Regions from separate parts of the Homo sapiens genome. Here region 1 is linked to region 2. Evidence: fine-mapped expression QTL. A gene starts in region 2. The other region holds a variant in brackets. All regions are shown on one strand. Distances are between the middles of the regions.

Region 1 (5,370 bases), 68 kb before region 2:
CAGGCTGGAGTGCAATGGTGCAATCTCGGCTCACTGCAACCTTCGCCTCCCGGGCTCAAGTGATTCTCCTGCCTCAGCCTCCCAAGTAGTGGGGATTACAGGTGCCCACCACCACACCCAGCTAATTTTTTCCTTTTTTTGAGACAGAATCTCGCTCTGTCGCCCAGGCTGGAGTGCAGTGGTGCAATCTCGGCTCACTGCAAGCTCCGCCTCCCGGGTTCACGCCATTCTCCTGACTCAGTCTCCTGGACTACAGGCGCCTGCCACCATGCCCGGCTAATTTTTTTTTTTTTTTTTTTTTTGTATTTTTAGTAGAGACAGGGTTTCACCATGTTAGCCAGGATGGTCTCGATCTCCTGACATTGTGATCTGCCTGCCTCGGCCTCCCAAAGTGCTGGGATTACAGGCATGAGCCACCACACCCAGCCTCACGCCCAGCTAATTTTTGTATTTTTAGTAGAGATGGGGTTCCACCATGTTGGCCAGGCTGGTCTCGAACTCTTGACCTCAAGTGATCTGCCCGCCTTGTCCTCCCAAAGTGCTGGGATTACAGGCGTGAACCACCACGCCCTGCCAAGGGAGACTTATTTTAAGAAATTGGCTCATGTGATGATGGAGGTTGGCAAGTCCAAATTCTTCAGGGTGAATTGTCAGGCTGGAGCCCCAGGAAAGTGCTGCTGTTGCAGTTCAAGTCCAAAGGCCACCAGCTGCAGAACTTACTCTAGCTTGGAAAAGGTTAGTCTTTTTGTTCTATTCAGGCCTTCAGTCGATTAGATGAGGCCCACCTACATTATGGAGGGCAACCTGCTTTATTCAAAGCCCACCAACTTCAATGTTGATCTCGTCCAAAAACACATTCACAGAAACATTCAGAATAATGTTTGACCACATATCTGGGCACTGTGGCCCAGCCAAGAGGACACATACAAGTAACCATTGTGCCAGGTTCACATAGCAAAGGGAAGTCACAGGGCTGTGGATGGCAGCAGAGCCATGGTCACCAGCGATTCAGGGAAAGCAAACAGGTGGGAGGGAAGCGAAGGTGCTGTTGGTTAGAGGTGGGCTGGAGTCTGGGACAGGATTCAACATACTCTGGGCACGAGGACTCAGTGGAGGATGAGGACAGCATGGTCGTGCTGTATCTGTATACCCTAAAGTATAGTAGGCTCTGTGCTATTTTACTTGGATTAACTCAATGATGCCTCTAGTAACTCTGTGACGTATGCTTCTCAACCCCACTGTTCAGAAGAGGAAACTGTCTTTGAGCTAGAGCTGTAAGAAAGAGAGAGAAAGGGAAACTGAGGTCCAGAGGTAGTAAGTAATAAGTCCAAGGTCACATAGCTAGGAAACTATATAGACTTGGTTCAACAATCAGGAGCCCTTAGCTGCAGGCAACCCAGCCTTCAACCTTCCTGGATTCTCATTGCAGGCCCAGACTTCAGGGGCAGCACATGCTAATAGATATGACCCAAGAAGGTAAAACTCTACCCCACCCTCAAACAAATAGATGGGAGTGATTCAATTAATGCTGGTACACTCATGTGATGGACTACTGAAAAGCTGAATAAAGAATGCTTGGCCAGGCGCGGTGGCTCACGCCTATAATCCCAGCACTTTGGAAGGCCAAGGCAGGCGATCATGAGGTCAGGAGTTCAAGACCAGCCTGGCCAACATGGTGAAACCCTGTCTCTAATAAAAATACAAAAATTAGCTGGGCATTGTGGCGGGTGCCTATAATCCCAGGTACTCGGGAGGCTGAGGCAGGAGAATTGCTTGAACCCGGGAGGCAGAGGTTGCAGTGAGCCGAGATCACACCACTGCACTCCAGCCTGGGCGATGGAGCAACACTCCGTCTTGGGCGGAAAAACAAGTTACTTGGGTGGCTGAGGTGGGAGGATTGCTTGAGCCAGGGAGGTCGAGGCTGCAGTGAGACATGATCGAGCCACTGCACTCCAGTCTGGATGACAGAGTGAGATCCTGCCTCAAAAAAAAAAAAAAAATAGAGAATTCAAGGGAAGGGTCTCTCAGGAGGTGTCATTCAGGATGAGACCTGACAAGATGAGAATGACAAGAGAGAGTCAGCCATGCAAAGATCTAGGGAAAGAACATGCCACTCAGAGGCAATACCATGTGTAAAAACTCCGGGTCTGGAAAAAGCGCTAAACGTAGGCTGGGCACGGTGGCTCACACCTATAATCCCAGCACTTTGGGAGGCCGAGGCGGGCGGATCACAAGGTCAGGAGATTGAGACCATCCTGGCTAACACGGTGAAACCCTGTCTCTACTAAAAATACAAAAAATTAGCCGGGCGTGGTGGCAGGCGCCTGTAGTCCCAGCTACTCAGGAGGCTGAGGCAGGAGAATGGTGTGAACCCGGGAGGTGGAGCTTGCAGTGAGCCGAGATGGCGCCACTGCACTCCAGCCTGGGCAACAGAGCGAGACTCCGCCTCAAAAAAAAAAAGAAAAAGCACTAAACATGTTAGAGGAACAGAAAGGAGTAGGCCAGCTGGGCGCAGTGGTGCACACCTCTAATCCCGGCACTTTGGGAGGCCGAGGTGGCTTGAGCCCATGAGTTTGAGACCAGCCTGGGCAACAAAGCAAGACCTTGTCTCTACTAAAAATTCAAAGAATTAGCTGGGCGTGGTGGCATGCACCTGTAGTCCCAGCTATTCGAGAGGCTGAGATGGGAGAATTGCTTGAGCCCAGGAAGTCAAGGCTACAGTGAGCCATGATCATGCCCCTGCACACTGGGTGACAGAGCAAGACTTGTCTCAAAAAAAAAAAGAAGAAGAAGAAGAGAAAAGAAAGGAGGAGGAGAATCAGGGAAGAGAAAAGG[A/G]AAGATGAAGTCTGAGAAGAGGCCAGAAAAATTGTGTAAGCCATGAGAAGGATGTGAGATTCTTCCTGTGTGAGTGGGAGAATTTTTTTTTTTTTTTGAGATGGAGTCTCGCTCTGTTGCCCAGGCTGGAGTACAGTGGTGCGATCTCAGCTCACTGCAAGCTCTGCCTCCCGGGTTCACGCCATTCTCCTGCCTCAGCCTCCCAAGTAGCTGGGACTACAGGCGCCTGCCACCACACACAGCTAATTTTTTGTATTTTTAGTAGAGACAGGGTTTCACCGTGTTAGCCAGGATGGTCTCGATCTCCTGACCTCGTGATCTGCCCGCCTCAGCCTCCCAAAGTGCTGGGATTACAGGCGTGAGCCACCACACCCAGCCGTGAGTGGGAGAATTTTAAACAGAGATGTACACTGATTTTTTTTTTTTTGAGACGGAGTCTTGCTCTGTTGCCCAGGCTGGAGTGCAGTGCACGATATTGGCTCACTGCAATCTCTGCCTCCTGGGTTCAAGAGATTCTCCTGCCTCAGCCTCCTGAGTAGCTGGGATTACAGGTGCCTGCCACCGCGCACAGCTAATTTTTTATATTTTTGGTAGGGACAGGGTTTCACCATGTCGGCCAGGCTGGTCTCGAACTCCTGACCTCAATTGATCCAGCCACCTCAGCCTTCCAAAGTGCTGGGATTACGGGCGTGAGCCACCGTGCCCAGCCTCTGATTTTTAAATTCATTTAAAATATATTCAGCTCCTCTTTTCAAACACTATCCTAGGCATTTGGGATAAAGAAGAGAACAAAACAGACAAAAATGCTTATATTTAATAGGGAAGCTGGGTCAAGAGGGGTAAGACAAGAAAAGAGGAATTGAGAGGGTCAGGGTGGAGAAGGTACAATTTAAAATAGGGTGGTCGCCCAGGCGCGGTGGCTCATGCCTGTAATCCCAGCACTTTGGGAGGCTGAGGTGGGAGGATCACTTGAGGTCAAGAGTTCGAGACTAGCCTGGCCAACATGGCAAAACACCGTCTCTACTAAAAATACAAAAATTAGCCAGGTGTGGTGGCAGGAACCTGTGATCCCAGCTACTCAGGAGGCAGAGGCACAAGAATCACTTGAACCTGGGAGGTGGAGGTTGCAGTAAGCCGAGATCGCGCCAGTGCACTCCAGCCTGGGTGACAGAGCGAGACTCAGTCTCAATAAAATAAATAAAATAAAATAAAATAAAATAAAATAAAATAAAATAAAATAAAATAAAATATAAAATAAAATATAAAATAAAATATAAAATAAAATATAAAATAAAATAAAATAAAATAAAATAAAATAAAATAAAATAAAATAAAATGAGTGGTCAACGTCAGTTCAATAGGAAGAGAGTATTTGAAGCCAGGTGTAGTGGCTTCAAATCCAAGCACTTTGGGAGGCTGAGGTGGTCAGATCACTAGAGGCCAGGAGTTCAAGACCAGCCTGGCCAACATGGCAAAACTCAAACTCCTTCTCTACTAAGAATACACACACACAAAAAGAAAATTAGCAGCTGGGCACAGAGGCTCACGCCTGTAATCCCAGCACTTTGGGAGGCCAAGGTGGGCGGATCACCTGAGGTCAGGAGTTCCAGACCAGACTGGCCAACATGAAACCCCATCTCTACTAAAAATACAAAAAAAATTAGCTGGGCATGGTGGAACATGCCTGTAATCCCAGCTACTTGGGAGGCTGAAGCAGGAGAATTGCTTGAACCCAGGAGGCAGAGGTTGCGGTGAGCTGAGATCATGCTATTGCACTCCAGCCTGGGCAACAGAGCAAGACTCCATCTCAAAAACAAAAGAAAGAAAGAAAAGAAAAAAGAAAATTAGCAGGGCATGGTGGCGCATGCCTGTAGTCCCCACTACTTGGGAGGCTGAGGCACAAGCATCTCTGGAACCCAGAAGGTGGAGGTTGCAGTGAGCAGAGATCACGCCACTGCACTCCACCCTGGGTGACAGAGTGAGACTCCGTCTCAAAAAAAAAAAAAAAAGGCAGAGGACATTTGAGCAAGGTCTTGAAGAAGGCAGTGAATTAGCCAGGTGGAGATGAGTTCCAGGCAGAGGAAACAGCCAGTGCCGAGGCCTGGGGGCAGGTGTGAGCCTGAAACATTTGAGCCAGGGGGCTGGTGTGGCTGGAGGGAGGGAATGAAGGAGGGTCAGAGATGGTCAGTTGGTCAGGGATAAGGTCAGAGAGGTAACCAAGGGCCAGATCATACAGACCACTGCAAGGGCATTGCCTTTTTTCCATGAATCAGGGAGCCCGACATTTAAAAAAGATCAGATTGTTCAGGGGTGTGAATGGAAGCAGTGAGGTGGTAAGAAGAGGTCAGCCCATCTGACAAGGGATTAATAACCAGAATATATAAGGAGCCCAAACAACTCTCTAGGAAAAGATCTAATAATCTTTTTTGAAAAATTTTTCTTCCTATTTTCTTGAAAGAAACCTAATAATCTGATTTAAAAATGGGCAACAATTCTGGGCACAGTGGCTCACACCTGTAATCTCAGAACTTTGGG
Region 2 (5,370 bases):
TTGAGACAGAATCTCGCTCTGTCAGCCAGGCTGGAGTGCAGTGGCACAAACTTGGCTCACCACAAGCTCCGCCTCCCAGGTTCACACCATTCTCCTGCCTCAGCCTCCCGAGTAGCTGGGACTACAGGCGCCCGCCATCACACTCTGCTAATTTTTTAAATATTTTTTAGTAGAGATGGGGTTTCACTGTGTTAGCCAGGGTGGTCTCGATTTCCTGACCTCATGATCCACCCGCCTTGGCCTCCCAAAGTGCTGGGATTACAGGCATGAGCCACCGTGCCTGGCCCATAAGCACTTTCTGAATGGCTGTCCTATCAGCCTGCCTCCCTGAATGGAGCCTGCTCCTTCCAGGTAATGAACTATCTCCACTTACTAACCCAACCCCAGTTACATAGGATAAAACTGAGGGTCACAAGAGGAGAAGAAACCACCCATGGGTGGGACTGGAATACAGGTCCCTGCCCGGTGGGCCAGGGCGGTTGCCCTTGCTTCAGGCTGAGTTTTGGCATTAGAATGTAAGAGTCCAGCTCCCAAGTAAGATTAAAATAGAAACACAGGCTAGGTGGGGTAGCTCACACCTGTAATCCCAGCTACTCAGGAATTCCTTGAACCCAGGAGCCAGAGGTTGCGTGAGAGGAGACTGCACCACTGCACTCCAGCCTGGGCAACAGAGCAAGACTCTGTCTCAAAAAAAATAAATAAAATAGAAACATAGGCCGGGCACGGTGGCTCGTGCCTGTAATCCCAACACTTTGGGAGGCCAAGGCAGGCTGATCACCTAAGGTCAGGAGTTCGAGACCAGCCTGCCCAACACGGTAATTAGCTGGGTGCGGTGGTGCATGCCTGTAATCCCAGCTACTCTGGGAGGCCAAGGCAGCAGAATCATTTGAACCCAGGAGGCAGAGGTTGCAGTGAGCCAAGATTGTGCCACTGCACTCCAGCCTAGGTGACAGAGAGAGTCTGTCTCAAAAAGAAAAGAAAAGAAACATAATTACCTATGGCTGTTCCTGAAGTCGCCCATGATGTAAGAGGTTTTGTGTGGCTGCCCCCTACAGAGCAGCGGTTGGCAAACTTTTTCTGTGAAGGGCCAGAAAATAAATATTTTAGGCTTTGCAGGCCTCTGTCTCAAGTACTGAATTCTGCTCTTGTAGCAAGAAAGCAGCCCGGGGCAGAACTTAAGCAAATGAGCAAGACTGTGTGACACTAAAACGTTATGTATAAACACTGGAATGTGAATTTCATATGATTTTTCACATGCCATGAAAAGTTCATTCTTCTTTTGATTTTTCCCCTAACCATTTAAAAGACATAAAAACCATACTTAGCTCAAAGGCCGTACAAAAACAATGCCCCCCTGCTTAAAGGAGGCAGAATCCATTCTTTGATTTTAGGACTAGAGATATGAAAAGCTATTATTATTTCAGAGAGGTGCCTAAGGCCTGACCGACGGCAGAGAGAAGGGAGGGTCAGTTAATCTCCCTCTGAGCATTCCGGGGTGAGGAGGGGAAAAAAGACCTTCCTTGGTGATGGATTCAGAGCCCTTATTTATTTTTGTTTGTTTTTGAGGCAGGGTCTTTCTCGTATCTTAATCTGTTTTCTTACCTGTAAAGCGGTGGCAATAATCCCTACCTTGAGCGATTATTAAGAGGGCTCAATGAGATAAAGGATGGTAAAAGATTTTGCAAAATGCGAATGTTTACTCACTTAATTGTTTCCACAGATGCGCGCTTAAGATCGCGCACTGAGTTTACTCCTCTGGGGAAGGCTTCTACGAAGTTTGATGGGACACTGTCCCTTTAAATCCTCCCCAACCACTTAAAGTGGTTGGACGAATCAGCACATGCGCATTCCTTTGAGGGGCCGGCACCTGGAGCAACAGCCTTCCCAGAGCCTGTAGAGGGGAGGTTAAAGGTCCTCCCACACAGTACTTTACGCAAGCGTAAATCATGATTGAGAGCCCTATATCATGCAGAGAGCCCAGTCCCTTTTTCGCGCCCGAAGGCTCCGCCCCGCGCAGCCAATCAGTAGGCCTCGCCCTTTGCAATAGCCAATGACAGTGAGCGTAGGGGGCGTGGCTGGGCGTCCGGAGGCGCGGCCTGGCGCCTAGAGAAGCGGCGGGGCGAGCCGGGGGCTCTAGTGAACAGCGGAGCCGGACGGGGATCGCCGGCGGGCGGCAAGCGGAGGCGGCCCAGGCCCGGCGGTCTCCGAGATGTCACGATGGCTGTGGCCATGGTCAAACTGTGTGAAAGAGCGGGTCTGCCGCTACTTGCTGCACCACTACTTAGGTCACTTCTTCCAAGAGCACCTCAGCCTGGACCAGCTCAGCCTCGATCTGTACAAGGGCAGCGTTGCCCTGCGAGACATCCACCTGGAAATCTGGGTGAGGAGCCAGGCCCGAGTCCAGGAAGGTGCGGAGGGTGGGAGCGCAGCGACCTGAGGCTCCCTGCGGCAGGATCGGGCTGGGGGATCAGGCACCGGGCGTAGAGAGGCCAGGGGAATCTTGCCCTCTCCAGGCGTCAGAGGCACCCCGGCTGGCCTCTTCAGTTCCTTACCAGAGCCAGAAACTGAGCGGGAAGGGGTTTCTGTCTCCACGGGAGGAGAAACTGAGGCTGGAGAGGGCAAGATCACCTGTCTGGAGAATGCAAGACAAACTCGTCGAGTTTGGGGGCTGAGTTAAGGAGGTTGGCTCTCGGGCTGAGGAGGGGCTGGGGAGGGAGCGTAGGAACTGAGCTGGGCCAGGGCAGTGACAGACTTGGGCCTGCGCAGCTGGTGGGGGAAGCTGGTAGGGGTCCGGAGCCCTGGCGAGGACACCTGTGGATCATGTGCCCTGACCTCTTGACCCCACGGTCCTGAGCCCGTAGGTGGGATCAACAAACCACCGGATGTGTATGTCAACAACCGCGTCAGTACGTCAGTACCAGTGTTGATCAACACCTCGTGTGCCTGGGTCGCTGCCTACTTCCTGCTTTTGGGAGAGTGGGATGGGCCAAGTGGGTGTCTAGGGAGGGACTGGATGGCCCCCACCTACATCTCCCACCGACCCCCCCGGCTCAGTGTCCCTGCCTGGAGGGAGGCCCTGGAGGAAAGGTGGGGAGATCTGGCTTCAAGCCGGGAGGAGGCCAAGGGAGATGCTAGGGAGGCCAAGAGGTGTAAGGTCAGAGGCTTGAGGCTGGGAACGGTGAGGAGCCCTGACTCACAGCTCAGCTGACCTGGGGAGCTTTGAAGGAGCCACCAATTAGAGGCGCGTCCTGGTCGATCCACCAGGTCCAGAGCAGCAGGGGTGGGCATGGAGGCAGGGACTTCTCAGTTTTGTGGCTGGACTCAGGGGGCTGCTAATCTGGGCAGAAGAGCTAGGCTTTGGGGGTAGGCCAGGCCCTGGTGAGCAAATGTGGGGTAGGATAATCGTGGGCCCTGAACTGGGGGCACCCCCCAGTGGCCTGCTGTCTGTGAATTCTGGTGTAGGAAGCCCTCTCTGACCTCTAACCTTAGCCTCAGCCTCTAAGGCCGTCTCTAGGCTGCCCCTTTTTTATTTTTATAGAGACAGGATTTCGCTATGTTGCCCAGGCTAGCCTTGAACCCCTGAAGGGATCCTCCCACCTCAGCCTCCCAAAGTGCTGAGATTATAGGCATGAACCACCATACCCAGCCCTAGGCTTCCCCTTTTTACTTTCAGCTCCAGAAAACGCCCCTACTCCTGTTCCCTGCCCTCTTGTTGGGGATTGAATTGGCTTCTCTAGGGCCCTGGTGGAATGCAGGCGCTTTCTTGATAACCAGCCCCTCCTCCCTCCCAGCTCAGCCTGCAGGCCCCGCCTTGAAGGCCCCCAAAGAAACTGAGTATCTGGGGCCTCTGAAGTGGCATGAAAAGAAAGAGGCCCGCATCCCAGTCTCAGTCCCTGTTGTATACTGGGTGACTAGATTAGTCCTGTCTCTAGGCCTCAGTTTCCCGAGCTGTGGGTCTCTGGGTGAGGAATTTGGACTCCCATCTGCTCTGCCATGTGCTTTTTTATTCTTGGATCCAACCAGTTTACTGAGGCCCTTTCTGGGTGGCACCTGGGGTGACGGGGGAGGCAGGTGGGGTACAGCCCTCCAGGAGCTTCCAGGTTGGCAGGGGTACAACTCCAGCATGGACATTTTAGCCAGGGGCTCAGCCTTGTGCCTCACAGAGAGGCACAGCTACACTAGGTGTTTGGGGTTGGTGGTGGGGGGGGGGGGTCCCATCTGGCATTAGGTCAGCCCCTCTCTTGGACACTGTCCCTTTGAACTCTGCTCATCCAGGGTGAACATGGGTATTCTGGACTCTGCCATACATGTGCCCATGTTGTCCTGTGCCTGCAACACACCACCTTCTACCAGCGCCTATCCCCCCTCCCTTTATTCTTCAGCTTGCCCCTCCTCTGACGGCCCAGGCTGGGTTAGGCGTCTTCCCCACGGCCCCCCCACCAGCCCCCTCACCACCCCCAAGCACCTGCTCACCTCTTGAGTTTCATCCTAGTTGCTCTGAGTCCCTGGCTGGAGCCTAGCTTGGCTGGGGAATGAAGACATTTTATTTACCCATCTAGTCTCAGTGTCAGCATGTAGAAAGTGCTCGGTAAATATTATCTTGAATTAAGTGGTGAGGGAAACATCTGCTCTGGCTTGAAGGATTAGGCACCTTTGGGTGACGGGGTAGGGGGGCTGGCCTGTAGTAGGGGACAGCATGAGCATAGGTGGGACCTTGTAGATAACACGTGGAGGGACAGGGCAAGCCAAGGGTGCTCTCCAAGGCACTATGGCCAGATAAGGCTGTGCCAGCCTGTGGGATTTGGGGTTTCCCTGAGCTGGTTTTGTCTCTTGCTTGCTCCCAGTCTGTGAACGAGGTGCTGGAGTCAATGGAGTCACCGCTGGAGCTGGTGGAAGGCTTCGTGGGCTCCATCGAGGTGGCCGTGCCCTGGGCTGCTCTGCTCACCGACCACTGCACAGTGCGCGTGTCCGGCCTCCAGCTCACCTTGCAGCCCCGCCGGGGTCCAGGTGAGGGCAGGGCGAGGCTGGGGGCAGGCAAGTGGGGAGAGTGGGCTGGGGCGTCCAGGACCTGACTGGGCCTGCCTGCCTTGAGACCCTGTTTCTCCCTACAGCGCCAGGGGCTGCCGACTCACAGAGCTGGGCCTCATGCATGACCACAAGCCTGCAGCTGGCCCAGGAGTGTCTGCGGGATGGGCTACCGGAGCCCTCTGAGCCACCACAGCCCCTGGAGGGGCTGGAGATGTTTGCCCAGACCATTGAGACTGGTGAGCAGGCCCCTCCTGGCCGCCCTGTCTCCTGCCCTTCAGTGGCACACAGAACAGGGGCTCCAGACAACGGCACGGCCACCCTGGTGCCCAGATGGGAAATTCT

What was found. PIP is the estimated chance that this variant, and not a neighbour inherited with it, causes the effect.
Region 1: its variant is fine-mapped to the expression of ATG2A in whole blood (TOPMed, PIP above 0.99).

What each region holds. Positions count from the first base shown.
Region 1 is chr11:64,982,276-64,987,645 of GRCh38, reverse strand. No RefSeq gene overlaps it. Among named protein-coding and RNA genes, the nearest start is that of BATF2, 12 kb to the left of the region's middle. The variant A/G (reference allele first, on the strand shown) is at 2,836.
Region 2 is chr11:64,913,975-64,919,344 of GRCh38, reverse strand. It overlaps ATG2A (autophagy related 2A), which reads left to right and starts at 2,136. Exons shown (of 41, transcript NM_015104.3): 1 at 2,136-2,380; 2 at 4,845-5,007; 3 at 5,112-5,264. The coding sequence starts at 2,210. It also overlaps a transcript of PPP2R5B not described here. RefSeq lists an enhancer at 1,735-1,864 and a silencer at 1,915-2,224.